Linked DNA regions of Homo sapiens: regions 1, 2, 3, 4 and 6 are each linked to region 5. The links come from fine-mapping of genetic effects on gene expression. A gene starts in region 5. Each other region holds a variant in brackets. All regions are shown on one strand. Distances are from middle to middle.

Region 1 (5,075 bases), 160 kb after region 5:
AGGAGTTTGAGACCATCCTGGCCAACATGGCGAAACCCCGTCTCTACTAAAAAATACAAAAAATTAGCCAGGCGTGGTGGTGGGCGCCTGTAATCCCAGCTACTCGGGAGGCTGAGGCAGGAGAAGTGCTTAAACCCGGGAGGCGGAGGCTGCAGTGAGCCGAGATCACGCCATTGCACTCCAGCTTGGGCAACAAGAGTGAATCTCCATCTCAAAAGAAAAAAAAAAAAGTGGGCTCCCTGTCATTTCTGTAGGTCATAGCAGGCACTCTGAAGTGCAGAGAGACCAGAATGAAAAGGCAGACTGCAGGGAACTACTATTAGTTATCAACTGCTGTATAACAAATTGCCACAAAACTTAGCAGCTTAAAACAAAACACATTTAATTTCTTTTTTTTTTCAATTTCAGATGTTTTTTATTCAGAGGTTCTTAAAAGAAATAAAACAGAAAAGCTAACAGTCTGATCAAACATACAGCTCAAAAATGTCTTTTGACGTTTAACAACAAGTCCTAGGAAAGAAAACTACAGAGTTATCTTGAATGGGGTAAATAAGTTACCACTGGCAAGTCTGTGGCACTAGTAAAACAAAAATAAAAAATTAAATCTCGGCCAGGCGCAGTGGCTTACACCTGTAATCCCAGCACTTTGGGAGGCTGAGGCAGGCAGATCACGATGTCAGGAGTTCAAGACCAGCCTGCCCAACATGGTGAAACCCCGTCTCTACTAAAAATACAAAAAATTAGCTGGGCATGGTGGCAGGCACCTGTAATCTCAGCTACTCGGGAGGCTGAGGCAGGAGAATCACTTGAACCCGGGAGGCGGAGGTTGCAGTGAGCTGAGATTATGCCACTGCACTCCAGCCTGGGCGACAAGAGTGAAACTCCATCTCAAAAAAAAAAAAAAAAAATTAACTCTCTTGATCATATAGATATCTCTATATCTCTTTTTTTCAATCGGGTACAAAAGATCTTTCTTCATAATTTTTTTTATAATTTAATGGCTATCTACTATATGATGTTTAACTAATTTTTTTTTTAATATACAGAGGTTATGTTTCCCAAATCTTACCCAGACGAGTATGGCACTTAGTTAGACATTTCTGGCAACAGATTTCCCCTCCCCTCTAACCAAACTATCAAATTTCTGCCTTAACTAATGCAGAAGTATCAACTAGTGGGAGACCCAGGTTTATAACTGTACTAGGTACACAGAGGGTGCTGCGTTCAGCCTGGGCTTTCACAAAGCAGTAATATTCCAGGGAGCATAGAACCAGTGATACCGTGACTTTTAAAAAATAAAACAAAAACAAATTTATCTTATGACTATGTAATTTTCACTAGAATCTACACTTCTCAGAGCAGCCAGGACTTTGGAAACTATGAAATGTCACTGACATTTATCATCAAATACAAGCATAAAATGTAAGAACTAAAAAATACTCAAAAGAAATAACTGCTTAGCCCTAGCTTCTGAGCTAGGAGGATTTGGGCTGTGGAAACAGGGAGGGCCAGCAACCTGTCCCAGCACAAAAGAAAATAGACTCTGAGGTAGATAACTGATCATACACAGCTGACCAGACAAGTACACAGTTTTGGAAGGCAACTTAATTTACCATTGCTTTTAAGACATATGCAATTGCCTTAATAAAAGAGCTTTAATAACAGTGTATTATCTTATATGTACTAAAATAGAAATAACTGTGTATTTATGAATCAGGAATTTCATAGTTTCAAAACTGGTTTTCTTTACACTTGAACACTTGTAGTGATGACATAAAGTGTGGCACCGCTTGGATCCAAATCTTCCTTCATGCTTTTTTGTTTATGTGTGTCCATACATCAATTAAAATTATAAAACCTAAATTTACAGTTTCTGTGGGTCAGGAATCTGCGAATGGTCAGTTCGGTCCTTCAGAATCTCTCACAGGCTGTAATCAAGGTACGTTGGCTGGGCTATAGTCATCTCACAGTTTAGCTGAGAATGATCTGCTTCCAAACTCATGTAGTGCTGGCAGGATTCGGTGCCTCGCTGGCTGTTGGCCAGAGGCCACCCTCAGTTCTTGGTCACATGGGCCTCACCAGCATGGCGCCTTGCTTCATCAAAGTACACAAGCTGAAGTGGCAATAGAGAGAGTCTGCTAGAAAGACGGAAGTCACCATCTTTTGAAGCCTAGTCACTTAAGGGACTGCACATTCTGTTGAGTAGAAGCAAGTCGTTAGATCCAGCCCACACTCAAGGGGAGGGGCTTGCACGAGACTGAATACTAGGAGGCAGGAGTCACTGGGGACTATGCTAGAATTATGCCTGTTGGGTTGGGCAC[A/G]GTAGGTCACACCTATAATCCCAGCACTTTGGGAGGCCAAGCCAGGGGGATCACTTGCACCCAGGAATTCGAGACCAGCCTGGGCAACATAGTGAGACCCCCGTCTCTATTTGAAAAAAAAAAAAGAATTATGCCTAATTATATGGAGGAAATCCTAGGCCAAATGACACTGGATATTCTCTGCTGCTGCTAGCAAACTTCTGTAAACCAGGAAGGGCCTCTCTAGAGAGCCAGATGAGAGGACATAGGGTGGGTGTGAGGAAGAGTGAGTGCTACAAGACAGTGTGAGGAGAGGTGAGTTCAAGGTAGGGGGAGGACAAGGGAGAGGGTTCCATTTTCAGCAGTGGGGCGAGCAGCACAAAACTGCAAAATGAACTGCAGATGCCAAGGGCAGTACATCCTCTAATTGGGGTGAATATTACAGAAACGGTCTTCTCTAAATTTCCCCAAGCTGCAGGAGGCATTTCCTATTACGTTCTATGTTACTGTTTTACCAGGAGAAAGGGTGGTGCATTTTACCCAGAAACTAACATAGGCTCCAAGTGGAGGAGAAGATACGACCAGCAAAGGATGTCAGTAACTGCTGCAGAGCCCTGCAAACCTGAACCCTGACGCTGACGCTGCCCTTTTGTTTGGGATGCAATTTTAATATTTCCCTGCTCCTCAGCCCTCATTAAAAGCTATTACAGAAAGAAGCCCTTCAGGTCTAGGTTTCTTTCAGATACAGTAAGGCTTCCCCTACAAAGACCAAGGCATAAACACAGCCCTGTGACTGTGGTTTTGACACGTTAATTACAACACTTCATCATGTTATTAGTGCTGGCTAGATGTAGATTGTGAGAATGAGATTTTAGTGAAGATTTAATTTCTTGGAATTAATTTCCCCTTGTGTAATAATCTCCCTTCTTGTGAATTTCGTTTCGGCAGGAGTGACACTCTTTGTGGCCCTTTATGACTATGAAGCACGGACAGAAGATGACCTGAGTTTTCACAAAGGAGAAAAATTTCAAATATTGAACAGCTCGTAAGTTTGGAGAGGGAGGAGAAGCATGTATACCTTTCAGGTTGGGAAGGGGTCTTGCATTTCTGGTCTGCATCTCTTCAGATGTCTGAAATGCTAAAAGAACATTTGCTAAATTCACTGGTTTACAACAATATACTTTGAGAAAAAGAAGAGTCAGTGACACAGTGCAGTATTTTATGGCACTGTGTGTCCAAGGAGATTTTTGGAGAGTACCAAAAATACTAGCACAGTCCATGTTTATTGGTTTTGGTTTAGGTTTAAAGGTTGTAAAATCACCAGCATCGCTCTCCACAGCCCTGAGTGTTTCTACAAACCTACAGTTTCAAGTGATTGGCACAAGCCTTGGCTACCCACGTTTCGTGCTCTCTGCCTTGAGATTTTCTTCACATTTCAGATGTTACACTAGCTAAGCCCTCACTTGAGGCTTGCAACAAGTTCTTTATTTTATAAACTGCTAAACATTTCTTTGGTGAAGCCTGTGGAGGCGTTTCCCTATAACAAAAATTTGGGAGTGACTGGAATCTTTTGGAGCTAGAAGAAGTGATTTTACCCACTCTTGAATGAATATGCTGCATGGTTGTTTAATGTTGGCCAGGAGGAACAACAGTTAAACAAGCAGTGGGGAGATTTCAAGAGTGAGGATCACTCACTTTTCAAATCCTACATTCAGTACCTCCATAAGAAGAGTAAACACGGGTCAGATTTTCTTAGGGTTTATAAATACTGCCTCTATTAGATTGAGGCAGTGTATGTGGATGAGGCCCTTCAGAAAAAAATCTAGGTTCTGAAGAAAGTGTGGGGGGGTGGGGTTCCACATCAGCAAGCCAGGCATCTCCAGCGTCCCTATGAGTGCTCCCGGTGGTTGGGAAAGAATGCCACCCAGGGGCTGAGGGGCACACCAGGAAGTTCTTCTATGCCACCAAGTCTGGTTGCTTCTCCTCTGCTCTCTGAGCAAATCAGATTCCATGTTGGCAGAAGGACTTGGAGCCAGGCTCCTCAGCTTTCCCAGAAGGATATGCCAGAGGGAGTAAGAGGCAGCCCTGGTCACACTGCACATCCCAGGAAAGAGGAGTGCTGATTGCCACAGGGACCTCCTTCAGGCCTGAAAACTGCCTCCTTGGAAAGCCCACCCTTTTCTTGAATGCCCCCTGGCTCACAGAACCATGCAGTGAGAATATGCCGCCTTTCAACAGCAAGAACTGAATACTGCCATAAAGGGCCAACGACTCTCTTCGAGACATCAGAAGGCACAGTCTACATAGCCACAGGGTTTTCAAACATATATTAGGATTGTCATCATTAACAAAGGTGTGGGGTGGTGTTTTTTTAACTTTTTGTTGGAACACATGCAGAAAAGTGCACGTATCAAAAGTGTACACAGTGATGTTGCACAACAGTGTGAACGTACTTACTGCCGCTCAACTGTACACTTAAAAATGATTAAAATGATAAATTTTATGTTGCCTATATTTTACCACAATTTTCAAAAAGTATACAGTTTGCTGAATTTTCACAAGCTGAACATGCCTGTGTGGCCACCAGCCAGGTCAAGAAGAGTGTTACCTGCCCCCCAGGAGTCCTCCTCCTGTAGCCACAGGAAGTTTTTAAAAAATAATAAACAGCTACCATTCATTGAAGGCTCCTGATGTACCAGCCATGAGCTAAGTTACAAACATTCTCATGCATTCTTCCACTACTGTCTGAGGTATGCATCGACGTCATCGTTTGAT
Region 2 (5,075 bases), 220 kb before region 5:
ACATCGAATATATGAATTTCCTTTCCAACATTCCCACCAAATAGTCATTCAGCCTTTAGCATTTCTAAAGATCGGGAGCTCACTACTTCCCAAAGCAGCCCATTTTATCCTTGACTAACTCCGATTTTTAAATACCTACACCTGTTAAACTTAAATCTGTGTTCCCAAAATTTCCAAGCCATGAGAATCTAACAATGTAGTATTTAAGGTTTTGCTATGGTAAACATCAGAGAAATGGAACTAATCATTCTGCAAAAACACTTTGTCTCACAGAATCTTCAGATTCTATATCACTCTTTCTGCCAAAGGTCGCAGCAAAGCCAAAGTGATACTAATCAAAGCCAAAGTGACATTAACTCTGAGGTCTAAGTCTTTTTCATATTTTTAGCCTTATGCCTAGCACAGTGCCCTGTGCATACTAGCACTGAAGTTTTGTTTGTTTAATTGAATGTTATCTAATCGTGAAGCTATCAACAAAACAATCTATTAGGTTGGTGCAAAGGTAATTGTGTTTTTGTTGTTGTTGTTAATAGCTAAAAATGTACCAGAAAGACAGAGAATGAATTGCTCTATCATCAAGACTTACAGAAATACAAAATACAGACTCTACACTAAGGAAAACTGGGCTCTGTTAATACGCTAACTTAGAAACAACAATGTTTTTGAATTGCTGAGAGTTTTTTCTTGCTAATAATGAATATCAGCTGAAGGTTGTATTGATGATAGCCAATACATATCTCCTCACTTGTGAGGACAGAAGACTTTACCTGGTTGGTGACATCTCCTTCCCATTACAGGCAGCACTGGAGCTCAGCCCAGGTTCCAGCTCAATTGAAGAATCTCCTCCTTCCACTGGAAACCTCCTTGGCTGGGTTCCAAATTGAAAAGGCATACTTCACTGAAAACCTAGATCGGAAAGTTAAAATATTGAAAACCTAGATTAGAAAATTAAAATATTGGGGGTGGAGATAGATTGTCTTCAAAGACTTGCATGGAATGTTTTAAAGAGTCAGAGTCTCACTATGTTGGCCAGGCTGGAGTGCAATGGTTATTCACCAGTGCAATCATAGTGCACTACAATTTTGAAACCCTGGGCTTAAGTGATCCTCCTGCCTCAGCCTCCTGAGTAACTGGAACTACAGGTGCACACAACGTGCCTGCCCTTGGAATTTTTAATATTACTATTTTGTTATAGACATACAGAAACATTCTGAATGTTATTCTATTTTTAAATAGCTAAAAATAGTGTTTAAAATACTGTATTTCACAACTATCCCTTATGTACAATTTAAGTCTTGCAAAAAATACAAAATAGCCACCAAGCAACGCAAGGAAAATACTCTATGGTTAACATAACTGAAGACCATTTCTGCCGTGTGAAAACAAAATTCTGTATGCCTTTAAATGGTTGTTGCAATCAACAAGCACCTCTCTACCTATCTATGCCCTTCTCTTCCTTTGGAGCACAGTTTCACATTCACCAAGATATCTTTAGCTAATCCTTCAGTTCCAGGGGATTATTCATTTCCCCACTGCTTCTCTATAGTCACAGTATAGTCCCTGGCTCTGGCCCTTCCCAACTATGTGATCTTCAGTCAAGGTACTTATCTATATTTCTCAAGGGTACATTGGTGATAATATTTTCTACTTCTAGGATAATAGTGAGGATTAAGTAAGGTAATACACGTAAAGTGCAGTGCCTAACACACAGTAAGTGCTCAGTAAATGTTAACTATTATTATTTAGCAGGTACTACTGAGCATTAGTAAGTATATATAAATGTCTGCAAGTATACCTGAGATATGAAATTTATTATGAAATACACACACAAACACATATAAATGAACTCCTTACTGCCTACCTTGGAACACTTCCCTACCCCCTGCTCCCACCCTTCACTTGCTATGGCCAATGCAATCCATTAAGTCTGAATTTACATTTTACTTACTCTATAACTTACTTTTATAACCCCCATTATCTAAGTTTTCATAGCAACCTTTATTTCTCCTTCGTAACAGTTATCCTTCTAATTCAGGGTTTCTCAACCATGACACTATTCACAGCTGGGATCAGATAGTTCTTAGCTGGGGAGGGAGGATACTGTCCTGTGCACTGTAGGATGTTTCGCAGCATTCAAGGCCTTTACCCACTGGATGCAAAGAGTACCCCTCTCCCAAAATTGTGACAGCCCAAAATGTCTATAGACATTGTCAAATGTCCCCTGGTGGGAGAGAGAGGCAAAACTGCCCACTGTTGAGAAACACTACCCTCATTTTTTGTAAATGTTTAATATCCCCCCTCATTCCAAGTCTGTCTTTGTCATCCCTGAATACTTAATACCTAGAACAGTGCTTGTCACACAGTGGACATTTAATAGCTCTACCCTGAAATAACTTGCATGTATTCAACTATTAGTACACAATGTATTCAACTATTAGTACACAATGTTTTCAACTATTAGTACACAATGTATTCAACTATTAGTACACAATGTTTTCAACTATTAGTACACA[CTG/G]TTTTCAACTATTAGTACACAATGTATTCAACTATTAGTACACAATGTTTTCAACTATTAGTACACAATGTTTTCAACTATTAGTACACAATGTTTTCAGCTATTAGTACACAATGTTTTCAGCTATTAGTACACAATGTATTCAACTATTAGTATACAATGTATTCAACTATTAGTACACAAAGGGTAGGAAAAATTTAAAATGGTGCAACTATTTCTTATGCCTAGTACAGTATTCTATGCCTAAAAGTGAATGTTTATTGGTGTTAATAATAAAACTAAATTAAGGTTTAAAAATTTGAATATGATAACTTTTATAGACTGTCTCAATATCAAGAAAAAAGTGTTTCGCTCAATGATGATTTAGTGAAACCATAATAAACTCTGTGGTTTAGTATAACTACCTATCTATGCAGGTATTAACATTTAGCTAATTTGATCAAGGATAAATAGACTTACCAAAAGAGGCTGAGTCTGATTCCTGTAGAGGTGAATAAATCAATGCTTTCTACTGGCCTTTCCACAGAAGGCTGGAATTGCCAAAGGAATGATGATCAAATGTTCCGGTGACACCCGGAAATTATGACATCAGGAGATTCTTTCACATAGTTTCCTACCTGCTAAAGAATCAAACATCTCAATGCATAGCTCCAACAACAAGCTGAGGCTTAGCTAAAAATTTTCTCTAAAGCTTTTTGGAGAGTTTCATTCTTGTTTTTACTGGCTTATTTCCCTACAATATTAGTATTTTCATCCATGAGTGGGGACCTACAGTCTAATCCACCTGTAGTAAATCAGAATTGAGATTCTTCTCATTTTATATCCTGTTTTCCTCATTCCCTTTCTCTCCCAGACCTTCTCTTATAACATCCCAAATAAATCCCATCTGTCTACATCCTCATCTCACTCCAATATCCTCAAACCCAAATTGTACCTTTACAAATTTCTCTATAACTCTTACATGGGATTCTTTACACCCTCTCTCTAATGCCTGGACTAACTTTATTTTTTTTTCCTGTTTCCTCAAGAGAGTCTTCAAATTCCCAAATGGCTGGAATAATTACAATTGTGAAAGGAAGAATACATCTTTTTTGTTGTTGTTGTTGAGACAGAGTCTCGCTCTGTCACCCAGGCTGGAGTGCAGTGGTGCTATCTTGGCTCACTGCAAGCTCTGCCTCACCTGTTCACACCACTCTCCTGCCTCAGCCTCCCAAGTAGCTGGGACTACAGGCACCCGCCACCACACCCGGCTAATTTTTTCTATTTTTAGTAGAGATGGGGTTTCACCGTGTTAGCCAGGATGGTCTCGATCTCCTGACCTCGTGATCCGCCCGCCTCGGCCTCCCAAAGTGCTGGGATTACAGGCGTGAGCCACCGCGCCCGGCCGAAAGGAAGAATACATCTTGTACTGTCCTCATTATTCTGTTCCCTGAGCCCTGGGCTGCTTCTCTGCTCATTTCTCTAACTGCTCTCCCTCTCCCAACTCATTCTTGGCTTCTAGATCAATAGCCCACCTCATGAACTTCTCCTCTACTCAGTAATGTTTAGTTTAACCCTTATACCAGAACATAACTCTTCAGCTAAGCAGTTTTTCAATTTTCATATCCGATGACTAAACTATTAAATGTTAGTGAGCATTTTTACCACTGTTGTGTTTTCATATGACTCAAGTTATAGAAAACTGGCATTTTACATAAGAATTAACTTGATGTTGGATACAATCTTACCTCCACCTTCTTTTTCTTACTAGGGTACTATCTGTGAATAAGTTGATCACCATTTCAGCTTGGAAAAATAACTGACGGTGTCACAGTCACACAAACAAATAATTGCTGGCCATTGTGAGCTAAGGTATCATTAGGACCTAAACATTTGGTCCTTAGGATGGCAAAAAATGTAATAGTTTACATGTTTGAGAGGTGGTAGCAGTGGGGAGAATGATGGGTTTTAGCATCAGAATTAGGTTAGAGGTTTTTTTTTTTCTTTTTTTTTTTTTTTGGTTTTTTTTTTTTTTTTTTTTTTTTTGAGACAGGGTCTTGCTCTGTCATCCAGGCTGGAGTGCAGTGGCATGATCATGGCTGACTGCATGCAGCCTCGACCTCCTGGAATCAAGCAATCCTCCTGCCTCAGCATCTCAAGTAGCTGGGACTACAGGTGCACACCACTATGCCCAGCTAATTTTGTATTTTTTTGTAGATAGAGGGTTTTACCATGCTGCTCAGGCTAGTCTCAAATTCCTGGGCTCAAGTGATCCACCCACCTCACCCTCCCAAAGTGCTAAGGTTACAGGCATGAGCCCACTGTGCCCAGCCAGGTTTGAATTTTGACACAATGTTAGCTCTGAGATTTTAAGCAAATCACTAAAAGTTTGTCTGTAAAATGGTATTAATTCCTACCTTACAGAGTTGTCGTGAGGAATTAAAAACAATCTAACATGTATAAAGCCAATAACTGGGACACAAGAATTCAATCAGCACTACTTCCTACATATTTTTGTGTCATTCTTGAAATCAGAGTATTGAGACACTGATTTCACCTTTTAGTCATGGATATATATGAA
Region 3 (5,075 bases), 190 kb after region 5:
CCCATGCAGCCCAGCTCGTCATGTGGCATGAAGTCAGACTGACACGGGCCCTCTGCCCCTTCTGGGGGTGGCTGGATTCTTGGCATCATTTCTGTGTTGAGCTACATCCCACACATCCGTTGATCACTCAGGTGAGTTCCTCTCACCACCCTGGGCAGCAGTGTGCAGTTGGTTACAAAGCTCTTGTCTTTTGTTCTGGATTGAAAGTCCGCAAACATAGCGTTTATGCTGTTGAAGCTGTGAATCAGAATTTTTATTCTGTTTGTTTTGTTTTGTTTTGTTTTCTCTTTACAGAGGTAATCAAGTTACAGAATTTTTATTCTGATATTACTTCCTTTCTGGCTCTTCGGAAACTGGAAGGATAATTGGAATTATTCAGAGCCTCAGTATTCTAGAACAGCAAGCAGGGCTCCTTTTTTCTTCAGTCCCACCCAAGATAACCACTTAAATAAGCCTCCATAACACAGTCTGTACTCCAAGGAAAGTCCCTTCGATGGTTCTCAGATTTCCTTCTTAAAAGGACTAAATACCCACAGTTTCAGGAGATGCCCATTAATGTTATCCTCTACTTTTGTGTTGCCCCCATAAGTTACCCTGGGTTTGTCATTGGTCACCGTTGCAAGGAGGGTGATGGAGAAAGGCAAGCAGCCCAGAGTTTCCTCCCTTCACTTCCTGGCTCCTCTAGGGATATTTGGAAGGAATGTCACAGTTTACCTTCTGGTAGCCTCCATGTCTGGATCGAATGCCCTTCCACAATTTATCCTGCCTATCCTTCCCCGACTGCAAAACCCCAGGATTAATACCTAGAGTCCAGCCTTGCCCCTGCATTCTCCCTGGTAGCTGAGCCTACTCCCCTGTGTCCTCTAGTTGTCCTGGGTTCAATTTTTAATACCCACTGATGGACCTTCTGTCTCTTCTCTGTCCAGTCTTGAACTCTGGGCTCTCTTGGAACTTTCCTCACCCCTCTCAGCCTGAATATTCCTTCCATGGATTCCACTCAACCAGACTTTGGATCTGTGCCTACTTAATCAACCTTATCTTTGCAATATGTTCGGGCCCACCTTCCACTCCTTGGTTCTTGTCCTCCTTGGCCTAACTTGTCCCTTCTCCACTCACATCCCCGGTGGGACAGCATTCCTCCTTCCTCCCAACCTCCCTCCTTCTCAAACTTCTTGCTCAACATTATGAAATTTCAGATGGAATATAATCTTAACCCATTGTAACATATACTTTTCAAAAAAACATGATGCTAAAACTTTATGAACTTGAAGTAGAAGTTTCAACAGAGTGCGTCACCGGGGATAACTGGAAAACACCCAGTTGTATTACTTCAGAAGCATTTGGGAAATCTGAAAGTCATTCCTTTGGCCTAGTGTGAAAATTCTGAGTTTTGCTTTGCCAAGTTTCATTGGGTTTGAAATCATTGTTTTGTTTAAATAACCACAAAGTTCCAGGTCAGGTCAGCTTTGATTTTGCTTCTTTCACAGGATATCCTGTCCTGGTACCGCCTTGTCACCTCCCCCTCCTGTAAACCAAATTTCTGTTATTGGCATTGTTTGTGATTTTTTTTTTTTGTTTTATTACCCAGAGTAACTTTCAAGTTGAATTATTGCATACTATTAAATATTGGATATAATAATTTGCAGAGTTAGTGGCTTTATAATTAAAAAGGGCTCTGGGTGGCTCTTTGGTTCAGAAAAACAGTGTCTATTGTTGAAGTTAATGGGTTTCCTCCTTGAAAATGCTATTAGGGCACAGCTCAGATTCTCTGTAGGAAGGATTTGGCTTCTTTTATTCAATACTGACTTCACCTTCTCCACCTTGGCCTAGTTTTTTAGCCAGAGGGGATATTCTCTGAGACTATGGAATTGGCCTGGTCACCAAGAAAAATAAAAAAGAGAGAGACTTGGCAGTTCAGCTCTCCGGAGATGTGAGCTGGGCCCACCCAGGCCTGTCCTGGCCCCTGCCGTGACCCTCCCCACCGCAAGGAGAGCCATGGGTCATGCTGCATCATTCCAATGCGGCTGCCTCTCCCTGAAGCCCTCATCTCCTGCTTATGTTCTCTTTTCCTGTCTCTGCTGAGCCCTCTTCTTCCTAAAGGCAGTGCCACCATTTAGTTCTCTGTTGGGTTTGCCCGTGAAGTCTGTCTCCCTGGCTGCCTAGAAACCCCAAGGGCGGAGGCAACCTGTGCTTGGTTTTCCCAGGAGCGCCTCACAGGGTGCTGGGGACATCATGGACCCTCAGAAGATTCTCAGTGATTGGTTGATGAGTGTTTTGATTAGGAGGGTTTTTTCATCTTCTTTTCCTCTTCTGATGTTTGGAGAGCTTTGGCATTGCTGATGGCATTTGCCAGTGCAACTCAGGGACTTTAGGCCTTTACTATCTGAATAAAATAACAGCTGGTATTTATTCAGCTATTACCAGGTACCAGACGCTGTGCTGAGCCTTTTACATCAACTGTTCTTCCCACCACAACCTTAGGAGGTTATCATCCCCAGTTTACAGACAAGGAAACTGAGACTTAGGGATGTTTTAAATGATCAACCAGCAAATCCAGTGTGCAAGCACAGGGATACCTGACTCGGAAGCTCCTTTCCTAAATGATCATAGTGGTCCTTCCACAAGTGACCACTCAATCCCAGCTCAGCCCACAATCGGACCACTTTGCATTGTCACTGAAGAGCATCCACTCCTCGTTTCCTGGCCGGCTTATGTACTCTTACTGCAGGAGGTGATTTGGCAGCAAAAGTATCTGC[A/G]GTCTTCATTGGAGCATTTGAAATGCCCATGCCATCATCTTAATGTATGAAAACACATAAAGAACAGGAAGTAACTGAGTCAAGTAAGCTATTTCTATTTGAGGCAGAAGTGAAAAACAGATTACCTGGCCACTAGGGATAGAGGGACTTCATTAACTGGAATGTGGCCTGGGGCTTGGGATGGGCCATCCTGACATGATGACTTTGGGCAGTCATCCTGTTGGCACTGAAAAACCGAGAGCATCAGTCAGGCTGTGCTGTCGTATGAAAGGAAGATTTTATTCCTATAACTTTTAAGAGTGAAGAAAATTATTAGTTTATTACACCACTGTATTGACACTCTTTGCGTTTAGTTTGATTAAGTCTGTGTAAAGGAAGAGAATTACTTTGACCGTCAGGGTGTCAGATAACTTACTGCCTGGCTGGACCCTTTAGCTAGTTAGAGCATTTATTGCTGTTTAACCAGCCTTAGGCAAGTTGCTATGAAGAAATATGTGTCTCCAACCTCAAAGGATTTGCATTCTATTTAAGGAGATTTTTTAAATAACTTATGAAAGAACTAGTAAAAGGACACAGAGGAGACATGGACACAGTGGAACAGTGTATAGTGTTTATGCAGTCAGGCTCTGGCACCTTCGGTTCAAATCCCAGTTCTGTCATCTACACTTGTCCTTTGTTTGGCACATTGCTTTCCTCTCGGTGTTCCGTTTTCTCATCTGTAGAACAAGACTATTGCTGGCATCCACCTCATGTGCCCAGTGCTTTGCATGCCTGACTCTTAGCAAGCGCTCAGTGTATGTTTAGCTATTGTGGTAGCTGCTATTATCAAGCATTAAACTGTTGTTTCTAGCACTGGCGCTAGGTGCATTGGAGAGATTAGTGAAGGCTGGAGTAATCACAGATGGCTTCATGAAGGAGGTGGGACTGGAGCTGAGGAGGCTGTAGCTAAGCAGGTGAAGAGAAAGAGAGCATTTCCAAAGCCAATGTAAAAGAAACAAGTGTGAGCATGCTAAGTGCAGGACACAGGTTATAGTAAAGCAAACTGAACTAGATTAACTGTGTTTGGGGTAGCAAGAACCAAGTTAGGTCAGGCACGGTGGCTCACATCTGTAGTCCCAGCACTTTGGGAGACCAAGGCAGGAGGACCACTTGAGCCCAGGAATTCGAGACTAGCCTGGGCAACATAGCAAGATCCCATCTCTACAAAACATAAAATTAAACTAGGTGCAGTGGCTCATGCCTGTAATTGCAGCACTTTGGGAGGCCGAGGTGGGTGGATCACCTGAGGTCAGGAGTTCAAGAGCAGCCTGACCAATATGGTGAAACACCGCCTCTACTAAAAATACAAAAATTAGCCAGGCATGGTGGCGTGCACCAATAGTCCCAGCTACTCAGGAGGCTGAGACAGGAGAATTGCTTGTACCCATGAGGTGGAGGTTGCAGTAAGTCAAGATTGCACCACTGCACTCCAGCCTGGGCAACAGAGTGAGACTGTCTCAAAAAAAAAAAAAAATTAAATTAAATTAAACATTAGCCAGGCATGGTGGTGCACATCTAGCATCCTAGCTACTCAGGAGAGGCAGGAAACTTGCTTGAGTAAGCCCAAGCAAGAAGAAGAGCCCACAGGGGAGACACACAAAATGCTTGGAAAGAAAGGAAGGACATGGGGAAGAATAAACTCAGAAAAATAATTCATGCATTTCTCATAGAAATGTTTGAGCTTTGCGGGTTGGAATATGCTAAGTTTTACTGCTTTGTTACCGAAATTATTGGTATTATTCACATGTGAGAAGTGTGCTAAAATAGTACAAATGTACCCAGAGCCACTCGTTAAGTAAACATGACAGAAGTGACAATGGAAGCATCATCTACCCAATTGCTAATTGCTGATAGACACCCATGGGCCTTGAAATGTCACGATGCTTTTGAAGAGTTTTGAAAAGTCAAAACACTTTTCCCATTCTGTCTCATCATAAGTCATTCTCAAGGTAATGATGTGTTATCTTCCATGTTTTAAAAGACAAGGGGAAAGAACGACGTGGGAAGTCATCGCACTTCTGCTCACAGCCCAGTGACTTTCTGTTGCGCTTAGGATGGAATCCAAAATCCTAGTACAGGTTACAGAGTCCCACAAAATCTGTCCTTGTACCCCATCTTATTATTCTTCATAGCACTTTATTGTAGTTGACATATATAATAGCCATTCATTTATTTTATCTCCCTCAAACTAAGCTTCCAGCTCCATGACTGCCAGAGACTGTGTTCCCTTTCGTCCTCCTGGCACCGAGTGCAGTGCCAGGCACTGGGGAATACTCCAGA
Region 4 (5,075 bases), 68 kb before region 5:
GTAGATGGGTACTTTCCTCAAAATTACACAGCTATCAGTAGCATCTGATCATCTCTCCATTTATTGAGCTAAAGGTATTGGGTGAGCTGTTCTTTTATTTAACAGACCTATTTTGTGGTCCTACTTTGTGTCAGCCATTCATGCAAGAAATCAAAGACTGATTCTTTTGTGTACATCCATACTGTATGTGCCCAGGCTGTGCTGAGCACTGGAACAAGGCAGATCAGTCCCAGTCCTAAAGAGGCAGAAGCCCTGCCTGCCCTCAGGAGTTTAAGTTGGTGGATAAACAGCAGAGTATTTGCAAGCAAGGCATTTGGCTTAAGAAACGGAAGTGAAAATTATGTTTGAGAAATTTGGGTGTGTGTGAAAATGATGAAATGAGAACAAAAATACAGAAAATACATGTAGTTCAAAGGAACTCTTGGGAGAAGATGAAAGTAACATGTTGTATATAAGGAAATGAGAAAGTAAATCACAAGCAGATATAATATCTCAAAATATTGCCTAAGCCCGGGTAACAATAAAAACACACACACACATACACCCTCATGCAAGTGTCTTTTTTACTCTGGAATGTACTACCCCTTGTTAGGAGAGACGCTTCTGACCCACTGTCAGTGACTGTATTTTCAATTACCTTCCCTTAGTGATGGGTTTGCACAGTCCTAGCTACACTCTTCAGTAGCCACCACATAACCAATCTCAACTCGCAAAGGCTAATAAAAGGTAAAATGATGCAGCTGCTGTAGAAAACAGGATGATGGTTCCTCAAAAAAAATTGCACATGGAATTACCATGGGATCCAGCAATTCCACTTCTGGATATATATGAAAAGAATTGGATGCAGGGACTTGAACATATATTTGTACACCCACATTCATAGCAGCATTGTTCACAATAGCCAAAAGGTGGAAACAAGCCAAATGTCCATCAACAGAAGAATGGATAAACAAGGTGTGGTATATCCATACAATGGAATATTATTCAGCCTTAAAGAGGAGTAAAATTGTGATACATGCTAGAACATGGATGAACCTTGAACATATTACGCTAGGTGAAATAAACCAATTACAAAAGTACAAATAAGGCATGATTACACTTAAATGAGGTACAATATGAGGTACTTACAGGAGTCAAATTGATAGAGAGACAAAGTAGAGTGGTGATTACCCAGATGTAGGGGAGGAGGCGATGGGCAGTAACTGCTTAGTTATTTCCATTTGGGGTGATGAAATCAAGTCCTGGAAATGGATAGTGGTGATGGTTGCACAACAATGTGAAAGTGCCTAATGCTACTGAATTGTACACTTGAAAATAGTTAAAAAGGTAAATTTTATATTATGTATATTTTGCTACAATAAAAATATTTTTTTTAAAAAAAGACTAATAATGAGATCACAGGGGAGGCTGGCACACTAGAAAGAAGAACCACTGTGACCTCTAAGCATAGTATCCCAGGGTTAAGTAACTCTAGTAGTGTGCTTCCCAGACACTGTGAGTACTTTAAAACCATTTCAATACAATCTACTTTACTGTAGACTCAATATCTTTCTTCAAATCAACTTACTTAATAAAATTAATTTCTGCTTTGCCTTTGTCCTAAGCAAAGATGTACCATACATGAAATCATGGGTGTTGTGTGCCATTCTATTTTTTTCTAACACACCCTAATGACATATAACTTAACATAATAGATATTGATCAGCATATAACCTAAAATTATGTTTTGTGTCACACTTTGGAAAATACCACATGTCAATAACAATATTGTTTCATTTTATACTAGTAGTTATGCAAATGACTACTAGTTTCTAAATCAAATGATGGAAAAAGAATGGGTTTGAAAACGATAAGAGGTAGATTTTAGAGCTGTGCTTTCATCAAGGTTCAACAGGGAATCAATGGCACACCCAAATCAGACGAATTCCAGGAGAGTTTATTTACAAGGGGACTGTTTACAAAGATGTGAGTGGGTGTGGGTAGGGTGACCATCAGTCCCAGTTGCACAGGACAGGGTGGTTTCTACCTATTATCCTGGTGTAATAATTAATAACCCTACCTTTATTCTCAAGGGTGCCCCAGCTTGGATAATAAGTTACATGATTTCTCTAAGGACAGGGGAATCACAAGGGATCATGCAAAAATCCAGGGTGAGTAACAGTGAAGCAGTCACCAGCTCTAGACCCAAAGGGATGGGGGAGGGAGCAGTTACTGGAACCCAGGAGGAAAGTCTGTCTAGTGGGCCCCTCAGAAGAAACTGTGCCTTTGGTGGAGGGATACAGTCAATTCAAGGCAACATTGCAGGGAGAGAGCCAAGGAAATAAAAAACTAACCTCATCCTGCTCTTTGTTCTCATCTCCTGCCAGAGCTCCCTTTGGGCAAGCCAGGGAGTGAGGGTGTCTATTGATACAGCCTTGATGGATCAGTTTCCTGGGCTGAGAGCAGAGTGGAGGGTAGACAGTGAATCTGGAGGACCACCGTTTATGTTCTTTGACCAAGTCCTTCAACCTCTTTGAACACCAGTTTCCTTACCCTTCACATGAGAGCCTCATTCTGGTCATCTCTAAGGATCTCCAAGTTTCAACACTGTATGAAAAAGGAATATTTATTAGTCTAACAAGAATTAGGGGAGATTTCCTTCTGTCATCTACTCAGAAGCATTCTTTCCCCCACCTGAGGTACGTTTAATGTTAACAGGAATCCTGTTGACCTGATGAATGGGAAGAGTGTCCATTAAATGACCAAAATGCCTGAAGCTCTAGGAATGTTAACCTTGGTATGCACCTCGGGAAGGTCAGTCCCCCTCTTGCTGAGGCAGCCAATAAGCAGAGATAGACACAAATGTCATAATATCTCCTCTTTAAATGTAAATACTATTTTTAATGCCAAATAGATGAGGAGCAGCAAGGAGATGAAAAGGAAAGAGGAAGATGACCATTACCAC[C/T]ATTGAAAGTGACTTCCACCACTTCCTCTAAGGATGCTACCTCATAATTACTACTGAGAAGAAGTGTAAGACACTGGCTGGCTGCCTGGGACAGAGGCTGAGCAAAGGGATGAACGTCTACATCAGAGAGCCTGCATCCATGGGAAGCCCAGGACTCTGATGGGCCTTCTGCCTGGAACAACACACTTCATTCTGCAATGCTGAGTGCTTACTGAGAACTGGCACACACGTTAATTGCAGAGTACAAGAATTCACCAATGTAAAGGGAGAGAAGGGTTTTCTCCACTAAGAAAGTCAATAATATGTCAGGCTTATTTTATCCAGAAATCCAATACACTTGCAGAGCTGCAGACTTTGACTTCTTGACCTGCACAGATGGGAGAGGTGACATGGTGAGGAGGTGAAGAAGTGGGCACAGAAGCCAGACTGCCTGGGTTCAAATCCTGACTCTGCCCTCACTAGCCATGTAATCTTAGCAGGTTACTTAACTTTTTTGCTCCTCATCAATAAAATAAGAACTGGTGCCTTCTCCTAGGACTGTTATGAGGATTAAAGTATTTAATAAGAAGCTAATAAACTTAATGAAAGCAGAATAGTACTATATGTGTTTAATAAAATAAATGTTTTAATAAAATAGATGTTTTAATAAAATAAATTAAACACTATATGTGTTTAATAAAATAAATGTTTCAATGGAAGGGCAAAGAAGCCCTCAAACTTAAACATAAGGTGGATGGCACAGTTGCCTAAATAAAATGGAAAAGATAAAGGTAATTTCTATTGGATTTGAGCAAGTTCCCAAGTAGACTTGAAAAGAAATTTCCTATTACCTTTTTTTTCTGTGTTTTTACAGATGTTAAGAAGTATATGGCCTATGATTTTCATCTATTACAGTTGTCATACATTTATATTTATGTGCATATAAATAGACACACACTATGTGCTCAAATTCTCCTAGTTCATAACCTACTCTCTGAGGCATGTCATTCACTCATAGTGAAAAGGGTAATGAATCCAAAAACACATTAGAATTTTGGTTCTATGCCTTTTTTGAGAGACCTTAGATAAATCTAGCTTTGGGAAATGTTTCACCATCTGAATATGAGATGATCTCTCAGATTCTTTTGGGGATCAAATGAGGTAATACAAGCAAAGCACTTAGAACAGTGACTCATTTTTAAACAAACAAAAGAAGCTAAATTGATGGTGTGAGACTTTGAAGACAAAAGGCACTGTGGCTTCCCTCGTACTCTTTCTCTGGATCACTCTGGGGGAATCCAGCTGCATGTTGTGAGGCCGCCTGCAACACCCTATGGAGAATTCCATGTGGTAGAAATCTGAGGCCTCCTGCCAGCTGTCAGCAAGGAACTGAGGCCTCTAGCCAACAGCCAGGTGAGTGCACCGTCTTAGGAGCAGATTCTTCCAGCTCCAGTCGAGCCTTCAGATGACTGCAATCCTGGCCAACATGCTGACTGCAACCTCCTGAGAGATCCTGAACCAGAACCACCCAGCCCAGCTAAACTGCTCCTGGATTCCTGCTCTATAGAAACAGTGTGAGATAACATTCATTGTTGTTTTAAGCTGCTAAATTTTGGGGTAATTTATTACATAGCAATAGACAACTAACATAATAGGGGTTGAATTCCTGGTCTACCTACATTTGGACTCAGAATAATAACAAGATGAACCCAGAAATTTGAGAATAAGATTATATAGAATAAGATGCTAAACTGAACCCTACAGGAAACAAGACTGAGCGTGATGAGGTGATCATTCTAAGGTAAGCTGGAAAATAAGCTGGAGAAACAAGACATTAATTTGCCAAAAAGAAAGTAGGGTTGGAGCTTAGTGTTTATTCAACTATGCAGCAAATAAATAGGGCAGCAACTATGTGCTACACACTGAGCTAGGATATTGAGCCACAAAGACAATTATCTCCACAATGATTTCTGCCCTCAAAAAATACACACAACACAAGTAAATAGAATTACAACATGAGTGATAAGTGCTCTCTGATAGTACCCTACAGTTTTTGGAAATTACGGAAATCTTCCCAGACGACGGAGTATCTAACAGAAACAGAAGGTTGGGGTTGCATTAGCCAAGCACAGAGGAGGAGGTGAAGTACAAT
Region 5 (5,075 bases):
TATTAAAATGGGATACTTTACATTCCATTTTTCATGCTTGATCTGAAATATCTAATACATCTTTTACATTTACAGCACATCCTAATTTGCAGTAGCCAAATTTCCAATACTGAAGTACATTTCAAGTACTTAACAGTCATGTGGCTAGTGGCTACCTCCTCGGACAGCCCAATTCTAGAACTATGGTCCTCAAGGTGCTGTCTCCAGATTGGCTGTATCAACATCACCTGGGAACTTGCTAAATGTGCAAATTCTTGGGCACCATCCCAAACCCCCTAAATCAGAACCTCAGGTGGTTAAACACAGCAATTCATGTTTAAGCAAGCCCCTTCAGTTATTTCTGATACATGTCAAAGTTTGAGAACCATTGCTCTACCCAACTGCCTCTGCATCCCAATCCAAATAAACCCAGAGCAGCCATTGCGGACTAGCCCTGAGGACGAAGAGCCTCTGCTCTTGAGATAAGCAATTCTTGGCTAAATGAAGCTGGCTTTCTCTTGTATGGAAATATCCTAGTCCTAGCTATGGTTCCATTTCTTGGGATTATGGAATTTCCAGACACAATTTAAACATGGTTTAATTTGTCATTTTGTTTAAGGAAAAGGAAAAAAATCCAGTAACCTCTGTATACTGTCACCTTGAGTTAGTTACTTAACTTTTCTTTTCCTCAGTTTCCTCCTCCATAGGATGCAGATCATTTAATAAATGTTAGCAACTTTTCTTAAAAAGTAGTGTGTACAAAAAGAAAAAAGTCAGCAAAAGGGACAGATTTTTTTAAACTACAGTAAAAACAAGTAGTGGGCCGGAAAGGCAATATTATAGATTTTGAGCACAGAAGCAGAAGCTGATTCACTTATAATTTCTTAGAACATTAGATTTGCTGAGGGGGAAGGTAGGGTTCTTGCCAAAATCATTAAGGAGAGCGATTCTGAGTATGCCTTAAAGCAGAACTTTCAGTAAACAGGAATTACCTATAAAGAAAATCAGGAAGCCAAAGTGTTTCTTTTTATGAAGTTACATCCTGCCATAGAAAAGCTGGATAGGAAATAAAGACCGATGCACTCCCAACTGTATACTAAACCGGCAATTATTTCATCAAGGGAAATATGAGCAAAAGCTCAGATTCAGTGAAGGGGAAAAAAACATGAGAAGTTTGAATGTTATGAGAAACCAAAGACAACCAATGACTACAATTAAACGAGGTTTTTTGGGGGTGGGGCGGGGAATGTACGAACAAATCTCTGTCATTTCAGGTTCCTTAGTCGCCGCTTGGCCCCTCCCCCTATTTCAGTAATACTTCCTCCAGACTTTTGCTAGAAAAAAAATATAAATGAGTGTCCGCAGAAATAGGGGACTGATAAAATGATCCTAATCTCCTTCTCCTCCTCATTGTTATTTGTTGTGCGTTTCCACGTTTCAGGACAGGATTCTACTTTGCTCCGTACTCTTTTCAGTTTGATCAAAGAAAACGCTGCTATCACCGCCCAATTTTCCATTTCATCCTCTCACCCTCAAATGAAAAGACACCAGAAAGGCAAGATAGCCCTGTCTCGAGGCAGTTTCCCATGGTTTTGGGGGAATGGCAGGTGCCAATCTGCAGCAGCAGCTGCAACCTTCCGCAAAGCGGAAACTGCAGTTCACACTCTCCGCTCTTTCTCCCGCCCTACTCCGCCACCTCACAACTCCACACAATCCTTAAAAACACACAGACCTCCTCCTCCAACCTCGCATTTTCTTGCACACCCTGCACCGCACGCACCCTGGGATGCCCGCTGCCACAGTAACGCTCAACCCACTCGGCGGCCCCACCTACTGCCGTCCCGCCCACGCCCCAGGCGCCAATGGTTGCGGCTCGCAGCTCCCAAGGGGCTCTTTGATAGGGCAGCCGGGCCTGTCACTCTCGAGGCGCGCCCCGCCCCCTCCTCGCTCCCCTCCGGAGCTGGAGGGGCAGAGCATCAGCAAGAGTAGCAGCGAGCAGCCGCGCTGGTGGCGGCGGCGCGTCGTTGCAGTTGCGCCATCTGTCAGGAGCGGAGCCGGCGAGGAGGGGGCTGCCGCGGGCGAGGAGGAGGGGTCGCCGCGAGCCGAAGGCCTTCGAGACCCGCCCGCCGCCCGGCGGCGAGAGTAGAGGCGAGGTTGTTGTGCGAGCGGCGCGTCCTCTCCCGCCCGGGCGCGCCGCGCTTCTCCCAGCGCACCGAGGACCGCCCGGGCGCACACAAAGCCGCCGCCCGCGCCGCACCGCCCGGCGGCCGCCGCCCGCGCCAGGGAGGGATTCGGCCGCCGGGCCGGGGACACCCCGGCGCCGCCCCCTCGGTGCTCTCGGAAGGCCCACCGGCTCCCGGGCCCGCCGGGGACCCCCCGGAGCCGCCTCGGCCGCGCCGGAGGAGGGCGGGGAGAGGACCATGTGAGTGGGCTCCGGAGCCTCAGCGCCGCGCAGGTAAGCAGGCGGCGGGGATGCGTCGCGGGAGGCCTCGGGGATGCTGCGGAGAAGCCCGGCCGCCGGCGCCCCCGCGCACGCCGCCCCCGCCGCAGGGCCCGGTGCTGCGGTCCCTTGGCCGCCAGGGCGCTCCGCGGGGCTGCCGGGGAGTCGGTGCTTGGGGTCTTCCCGCGGTTGCACCGGAGGACACCCCTGCGGGGTGCGGCCCCGAGGCAGCGCGGGGATGGGGACCCCATTTCCTCGCCCGCAAGCGGGCGCCGGGTGAAAATGGGAATTGGCTTGGGGGCGAGGCTGGCCCAGACTCCGCCCCCGCCCTCCTTTTGGGGCCCCCCGCGGGGACTGGGGCTGTGTGTGTTGTTTTAATGTCAGGGATGATGTAATCACTTAATAATTGATGCCCCGTGCTGCTTCCCTCCCCACCCAACCCCTGCCCCACTCCTCCACCTCTCGGCCTCCTCCCTCGGCGGCGGTCGCCTTCTCCAACCCATCCTCCTGCCTATTTCTGGCACCTCCCTTGCACTTCCCCCATCCTCCCCTTCACTCTTCCTGTGCCACCACCCACCCACCCTTCCCCTTTCCCCTGTGCTGGAGCCTTCCCTCCTCTTCCTCTGTCCCCCACCCCTCTGCTCCCTCCAGCTCTTTTCTCCTTCCTTTCCGGCTCCCTCGCTGGATTTCCTCTCTACTTCCCTAGATCCATGGCTGTTTTTGTTTGGGCTCCTCCCCTCTGTTATCTCTGCGGCCACAGGCGGAGGGGACTGGGCCAGAAGGAGGCCACCGAGCTTGGGCCCAGCAGAGATGTGCTGGGACTCACTGGGAAGAGGGATAATAAAATCACCCTTCTTGCCCCTCCTTCCCCCAATAAATCACACAGACTCGCCGGGTGTGTGAGTGTGAGTGTGACACAAAGAGCCCTTTCAGTGCATAGAGAGGAGACACACAAAGTACCCTAGGATAGGCACGATGCTTCTTGTCTCTCTTCCCTGGGGCTTCCCTTTCTTTCCCATGAAGCAGTTGATCTCTCTGAGTCTTTCCTGCCACATTTACCAAAAAATAAAAGAACCCCCGGATGCCGGGTGGCAGGTGTCGGCATTTTGCTGTGTTCAGAGACCGGTAGTGTTGACTGGCAGCTGCAGTGTTTCTTAGATTTAAGGGAACAGTTATCCCAGCAGTCTTAAGAGTTGCTTTACTTTTAAGGTAGCCTCCCCATCCCCTCGTTCTTTCCCCTGTCCTTTTGGGAACAAGTACTAAGAGCTGGGGTAGAGTAGATTGGTGTGGGGGTCACAAGAATTTTGTTTCTGAATCAGAATTAAATTGTTATTTGATAAGAGGGAGGCAGCCTGAATGGCTTCTTCTCTCAAGTCTAAGAGGGCACTGTACTGAAGTCTTTTGAAATGAAATCCTGTCTGCCCAGTGATGTTGTTTTACCCTTTTATTGAAGTAAATACCTGGGGACGTGGATAAAACGGTCTAGAGTTAGCATTTGGAAGACCACTGCAGACTGCCTCTTGCCTGCTTCAAGGTAGTCTTGGGACGCCTACTTCCTTTCTCACCACCCAAGCAACTGCAATACTTTCCACCCTATGTACTGTCTTCTTCCCCAGTCCCTGCTCCATGGGTACCCTGTATTCAGATGAAGGGACTCACAGACTTTTGGAGGAAGTGGTTTAACTATCTGAGGCTTTGAGGCCACTTGGCTATGAACTGGGGCTGTAGAGAATCTTGACTGAAGTCTAAACCATTTGATGTTCCCTTTAAGGAAGAAATGTTAATGTAAATCTGGGGGCTTAATGTTCCGTTTTGTAAGCCAGTGACTATTACATGCTTAATCGATATTGTCAAAACTTAAGTTGAACCTGTTCTTTCCTAAAAGTATGGCTCCTCGACTATTTTTATAAGTAACAGAACTGTAGGTTTAGTCTTCAGTAATTTTATTAGAAAAGAGTTATGATTCATTAAATATTTACTTACACACTTTTTAAGAACATTCATCGTGGAACTTTTTACGATAAAAAAAGCAATAGGGTTAATGAGTGTACTGTAAAAACAAAGGGTCGTTTGTTTGATGCCAGACCCAGGAAGGAAAGCCAGAGCACATAAACTCACACTCTGTTGACCAAGTTTAAGAGACTTAATGATAAGGTTGAATGTGAGCAAATGCACACTCTGCTTTCTCCTGGGTCTGGAATCTCCAACCCCATCTGACTTGCTCGAAGTCCTTTTTAACCTTTGGGGCCCAGCTCAAATGTCATCTCCTCTGTGAAGCCGTTTCCATCTTCTCCTTTCCAAACAAATCATCATGTTTTGGTTTCAAACTTTGGCAGCAGGCATTATGTTTCGCATGAGTCTATTTCCACCATTAATTGGTCAGCACATTGATAAAAGGAACCTTATCTTACTTATCTTGTTTCCTACCAAGTTTTATCTTAGCGGGTATTCTGTTTCATTTAACATTAAACAAATGTGAGTTAGGTCTTTGGTATGTGCTCAACACCTGTATCAATTAGGCTAATGTTAGCAGGTGTAACAAATAGGCCTGCAAATATATAATGGCTCAAAAGCAATAGACGTTTATTCTTGCTCATTTAATAGTCAAAAATTCATGTTTCTGGTCGGTAGGTGGCTTTCCTCCATGCAGTGACTC
Region 6 (5,075 bases), 180 kb after region 5:
TATGAGTTAGCTAGTTTAATAAATCCACATTATTGTGTCCATCTCTCTCTGGACTTAATCTCAAGTATCGTAAAATATATGACCTCCTTCTTCCTCATTCACCCTCTAATAATAGAGGATTTTAGTCAAATTACTCACACAATCACAGAGAATTGGACCCTATTAGAAAATTTATTTTCAAATTTTACAAATATCAACTTTAAATCATTACATATACTGTTCACATTTTGTTTTCCAATAAACACAAGACAACATGCCCATCAGAATTGGGATGGATGTCTGTGTAATTGACGAAGTTTGTATTACAGAGGAAGATCTTAATGTATTTAGAATTTTGGGTGCTGACTCTTAAATAGCAAAGATCACTTATAAATTGTCAAATTTCCCATGAATGCTTAGTGGGCAGATATTTTATGAAGTTTAAATGAACTTTTCTTTAAGCCACTTGTTTTTTCATAATTTATATTTTGTAGGTTGCATGTTGTAATTGTATGAACCATGTCTTTAACAGGATAATAAGAACTCCAATTTACAGAATCCTTAAATTCCAAAGTCAGTTATATTAAATATAAAAATCTTAATTTAAACCAGTCTTCTTTTTCAAATAGAAAATAATCTAAATTAGCAGATTTCTTCCCCTTTATAAAGTTATTCTTAAGCATCATAGGTCTAATAATGGAATACACAAAGAACCTAGGTATGGTTTTGTTTTTTGAATGCTGGGGCTGAAAGAGACCCAAAAGATAATCCAGTTCCATTCCTATATTTTACAGATGAGGTAACTGAGGACAATCATAATCCAGGCCTTGCCTTCAGATTTGCTAGATTTTTTTTTAACATGCTAAATTTAAATATTTCTGTTCCCTCTCAGCTGCTGTTTAATTTCCCCTGTCTACCTACCTGACAGAAGCCATTGTTCTTGTGGCTAGCCATCAGTAAAGCTGAGGAAATTTGCCTTACCTTGTTGAAGTATTGGCAAGCAGACTGTGAGCTCCTTGCCAGTGCTTATCAGCATGCTTGGCACACCTGTGCAAGGACTCAGTCAAGTAACTTGTCCATTGCAGACATTGAAAGTCTAGAGGTAATTTCCAGACATCCTCATGTGGTGCCATATTTTTAAATGGCACACCCCATAAACTTAAATAATCTAATTTCTTCCATGCACACTGTACTCCCTAAGGGACAGCTATTAGATGGCCAGGCCTGTTCCAACCCCTGGACTTTCATCACTGTATGGTGCAGAGCTTTTGGTATAAATGTGTAATCATATGACTGAGCCAAAAAAAGAGAGAGTGGTAATATATCAAAATTTAAAAAAATTTTAATGAGTTATAAATCTTAATATAGCCATCTTAGCCATAACCACAAATAAACTCATTTTTTCTGTTAAAATACTTGACAGAGTCCTTGCAATTGAATGTCTTTGTTCAACAAAAACTGTATTAAGTGTTTTAAATTTAAAATCTAATCTTATGCAAATAGCTGGTGGTCAAAACCTTTTTCCATCAAAAGAAGATCTTTGGTTTGACTTCATATTCTGGGATGTTTGTAGGTACCTGGAATGGAAACACAAAAGTAGCCATAAAGACTCTTAAACCAGGCACAATGTCCCCCGAATCATTCCTTGAGGAAGCGCAGATCATGAAGAAGCTGAAGCACGACAAGCTGGTCCAGCTCTATGCAGTGGTGTCTGAGGAGCCCATCTACATCGTCACCGAGTATATGAACAAAGGTTGGGCAACACCTCTCCTGTCTCCAGCTCACAGTGCCTTAAGGGGTTGTTTAGGGGAGAGAAATGGAAGTTTCCTACTTGCTACTTTTCTAGTTTCTGCCTGGGTCAAGTATTCCCATTAGGAACCACCAGTTATGTGCTCGTTAATGAAAACATTTTTTAAAACAGACTAACCTTGCGTTTACCCCACCCCAAATCCTTATGAAATGCCAAATACTTTTTACATGTTATGTGTGTCAGAAATTCAAGCTCCTCTCCATAATTAAAACATTCATTTTTAATATCAGGGTGGTACGGAGGGTTATGATAGTTTGCTGTTATTTTGAATGTAGTAGCTTTTGTTACATTTCCTTTTTGCAGGGCTAAACAATTAATATCAGACACTGGTCTCTAAGCTAAGTTTAGTCTCCATCATTTCAACATCTTTTTTATTTCCAGCTCTCTTCTTAAACGTCAGGCGATGAAATTACATGCTTTCAGAGACCACATTTATTCTCACATTCTCTCCCCTACAACCCCTCTGTCTTCCTAATCAAACCAGCATTGTTAGGGATAAGGCCAGAGATCATTTTGTTTTGGAAAAATAGATGAACCAAACAAGAAACAGCCTTAAAAGGCAATACATTGTTTATCAGAGGATACCAGTGTAATTTTTCTTTTCCATGTACTTTCTTTTAAAATTTAATGGGAATTTTTTTTTCTGGCAAACGGTTTGTCCTTTGTATCCAGGGTTATTTTGTAAATAACTTTGTGATTAAAGCATAAAATATCACTGATGACCATCATAAGCCTCCAGCTTCTGCAAATGATTATCCCTGCTTTGGTGTTAGTTCTAAGCCTTCTTAGGCTGTGTTATAATAGTGGCTCTGAAGCTTCCAATGTTTCATTTCAGATGTCTGATTTAAGGCTTGGCTGGCTGTGATCTAATTAAGGGGAACCATCTGCCCCACCCATATTCTTCAGATTGTCTTTTCTTGATTCAAAATCTGTAAATAAGCTAAGCTAGTGAGTCTCAAACTTTACCTTGTATTATTAGAATCACCTGTAGGCCTTCTTAAAACCCAAGTTTCTGGACCCAACCTTCAAAGTTTCTGATTTACTCGATCTGGGATGGGACCTGAGAATTTGCATATCTAACAAGTTCCCTTGTGTTATTGTAGCTGCTGGTCCCAGGACCACAGTTTTGGACCACTCAGCTGGGCTGTATTTTCCCCACATCAATTCTTTGTGCAGGGGTGATTGGGGAATGGGATTGAAGAGGTGCAGTTCTTCATAGGTTCCTCTTTATGACATACAGGGAGATTGAGTCCCATTTCTTCTAGTTTTATCAAATATATGTTGTTATTCCTAGAAATGGAATTAATGCTGTTTGTTTTTAAAAGGTAACT[G/A]TTACTTCTCCATGCCTATACTTTTTTCTACCCTGCTTTTTTATATAAACCTTTTTGTCCCCCCATGTGGATGGCATTATTCCATTTGACTACCTTATTACTTTTAATAAGAAAACCAAATACAGCTCTCTGTTGGGAATTATCTTTCAAAGTAAATTGAAATGATTTTATGTTTTGTTCATAGGAAGTTTACTGGATTTCTTAAAAGATGGAGAAGGAAGAGCTCTGAAATTACCAAATCTTGTGGACATGGCAGCACAGGTAGGCCCTGCAGGGTAACTTGATGTGCCATAGATTTAATGACGTGTCTAAGTACATTGGGTCGTGGTGTAACATGTCCTGTTCCCTGGGTTTCCACAGGTGGCTGCAGGAATGGCTTACATCGAGCGCATGAATTATATCCATAGAGATCTGCGATCAGCAAACATTCTAGTGGGGAATGGACTCATATGCAAGATTGCTGACTTCGGATTGGCCCGATTGATAGAAGACAATGAGTACACAGCAAGACAAGGTGGGCACTTGAATGACAATGGCTCGTGATCACAGCTGTGAGAACAGTCACTTACTGCACAGCCCTTCCTTCCTCCTTCCCTTCCCTTCCTTCAGAAAATACTTGAAATGTCATTCTTCAGCTTGGTTTGGACACCTTGATCTGGCAGGAATTTGACAGCTCTGCAGGTGGGAGACTGTTGTGGGCCCAGTGGAGGGATGAGATATTGGTTTTTGGTGGGTGGGTGGGTATTGGTATTTGCTGCTGTGGTCCTCTTGGCTCATGCTGGTCTCCTCACAGCGTCCAGGCCTAGAATACTCTGTTTTTGGAGAAAGAGACCACATTTATTCTCACATTCTCACATGCCTGTGTTTTTTACAAAGGCACAGGCAGGGTTTCAGAAAGCCAACAGGGCATGGTGCAGTGTCTCAGAGCTTGTAACAGCAACAGAACTAAGGCCTCAAAGGTAAGGGGGCAGAGAAGTGGGCACAAGAAGTCAGAATGGGCCACTGCACAGAGAGGGCCTCCTCAGTAAAGAGAGACGTCAGGGATGGATCTGGGGATTCACACCCAACCCCACTCTAGCCCACTTCTGGGTCTTCTGCCAGACCCAACCAGAAGTAGAGGTCACAGGAGCTCAGCGATGAATCCTTATGGGTCCAGAGCAGGGAGAGGGAGAGTGGAGAGTGGACTTACACTACAGATGGTAACAGCATAGTTACTCGAAAATCTCTACCTCCTTTCATCATCCCCGCCATCCCACCCTCTGCAAAAATTTATAGAAATTAGCCTTTAAGTAAAATATATCCCAACTCAGCAGCCATTCCAGTGGGGCAGCTTTTCAGGTGCTATTAGAGCACCAGATACTAGAAAGGAGTTTTTAGGAATATTTTCCTTCTTCCCAGATACTGACAAAGTGGTCACCAGGTAAAAGTGTGTGATTAAGTATGTGGTTTGCAATCGAGTATAGGCTCCTCATGTAGAATATAATGTTTATAGCTGGGGCAAGGGGGAACTTTCATTGTTGGTGTTTCTAACCAAAGCCTAGTCATCCCAAGCAAAGCGGAGCAGTGACTGGAATGTATTACAGGGTGATGCTTTCTACTGCATTTCATAATGGCCAGCTCTGGAGTCCTTTTCTTTCTCTTTTTCCTTCTCCTTCTCTTGCCCCTGTTCCTCCTCCTCTTGATTCTTTCATTTCATGCCAATTATCCTCTCCCTTCATTTGATCTGAGAATGGAAGCATTCTTAGCAGCCTCAAGTGATGAGGAAAAATGTTAAACTAAGACCCTGGCTGCTACCGATACTGTCCAAATGCTGAATTACATGTCGGTCAGACAGCTCAGCTATTTGAATTTCCCCAACACGTGGCAGTTCTTGTCCTGGAGCCAAATGCCCACACAGCAAGCATACCCGTGCGTTACACACACACATACACCCCCGGTGCTGGGCCAGATGGCAT

What was found. PIP is the estimated chance that this variant, and not a neighbour inherited with it, causes the effect. A credible set is the group of variants that fine-mapping cannot tell apart.
Region 1: its variant is the best candidate, but not a certain one, in a credible set for the expression of FYN in whole blood (TOPMed, PIP 0.81).
Region 2: its variant is the best candidate, but not a certain one, in a credible set for the expression of FYN in fibroblasts (GTEx, PIP 0.51).
Region 3: its variant is the best candidate, but not a certain one, in a credible set for the expression of FYN in whole blood (INTERVAL, PIP 0.77).
Region 4: its variant is the best candidate, but not a certain one, in a credible set for the expression of FYN in whole blood (TOPMed, PIP 0.85).
Region 6: its variant is the best candidate, but not a certain one, in a credible set for the expression of FYN in whole blood (TOPMed, PIP 0.87).

Annotation. Positions count from the first base shown.
Region 1 is chr6:111,712,617-111,717,691 of GRCh38, reverse strand. FYN (FYN proto-oncogene, Src family tyrosine kinase) reads left to right here. Exons shown (of 14, transcript NM_002037.5): 5 at 3,249-3,345. Among named protein-coding and RNA genes, the nearest start is that of TRAF3IP2, 110 kb to the right of the region's middle. The variant A/G (reference allele first, on the strand shown) is at 2,322.
Region 2 is chr6:112,095,101-112,100,175 of GRCh38, reverse strand. FAM229B (family with sequence similarity 229 member B) reads right to left here. Exons shown (of 4, transcript NM_001033564.3): 2 at 2,975-3,135; 3 at 768-906. The coding sequence starts at 892. Among named protein-coding and RNA genes, the nearest start is that of FAM229B, 10 kb to the right of the region's middle. The variant CTG/G (reference allele first, on the strand shown) is at 2,514.
Region 3 is chr6:111,680,227-111,685,301 of GRCh38, reverse strand. All of the region lies in intron 12 of FYN (FYN proto-oncogene, Src family tyrosine kinase), which reads left to right. Among named protein-coding and RNA genes, the nearest start is that of TRAF3IP2, 77 kb to the right of the region's middle. RefSeq lists an enhancer at 2,031-2,532. The variant A/G (reference allele first, on the strand shown) is at 2,757.
Region 4 is chr6:111,938,052-111,943,126 of GRCh38, reverse strand. No RefSeq gene overlaps it. Among named protein-coding and RNA genes, the nearest start is that of LINC02527, 31 kb to the right of the region's middle. The variant C/T (reference allele first, on the strand shown) is at 2,945.
Region 5 is chr6:111,870,327-111,875,401 of GRCh38, reverse strand. It overlaps FYN (FYN proto-oncogene, Src family tyrosine kinase), which reads left to right and starts at 1,950. Exons shown (of 14, transcript NM_002037.5): 1 at 1,950-2,434. LOC102724646 (a long non-coding RNA gene) reads right to left here and starts at 1,950. Exons shown (of 3, transcript NR_168402.1): 1 at 1,712-1,950. RefSeq lists silencers at 1,821-1,910, 2,031-2,280, 2,431-2,830 and an enhancer at 1,879-2,378.
Region 6 is chr6:111,692,934-111,698,008 of GRCh38, reverse strand. FYN (FYN proto-oncogene, Src family tyrosine kinase) reads left to right here. Exons shown (of 14, transcript NM_002037.5): 10 at 1,553-1,732; 11 at 3,305-3,381; 12 at 3,481-3,634. LOC105377945 (a long non-coding RNA gene) reads right to left here. Exons shown (of 3, transcript XR_001743812.2): 3 at 3,634-3,932. Among named protein-coding and RNA genes, the nearest start is that of TRAF3IP2, 90 kb to the right of the region's middle. The variant G/A (reference allele first, on the strand shown) is at 3,121.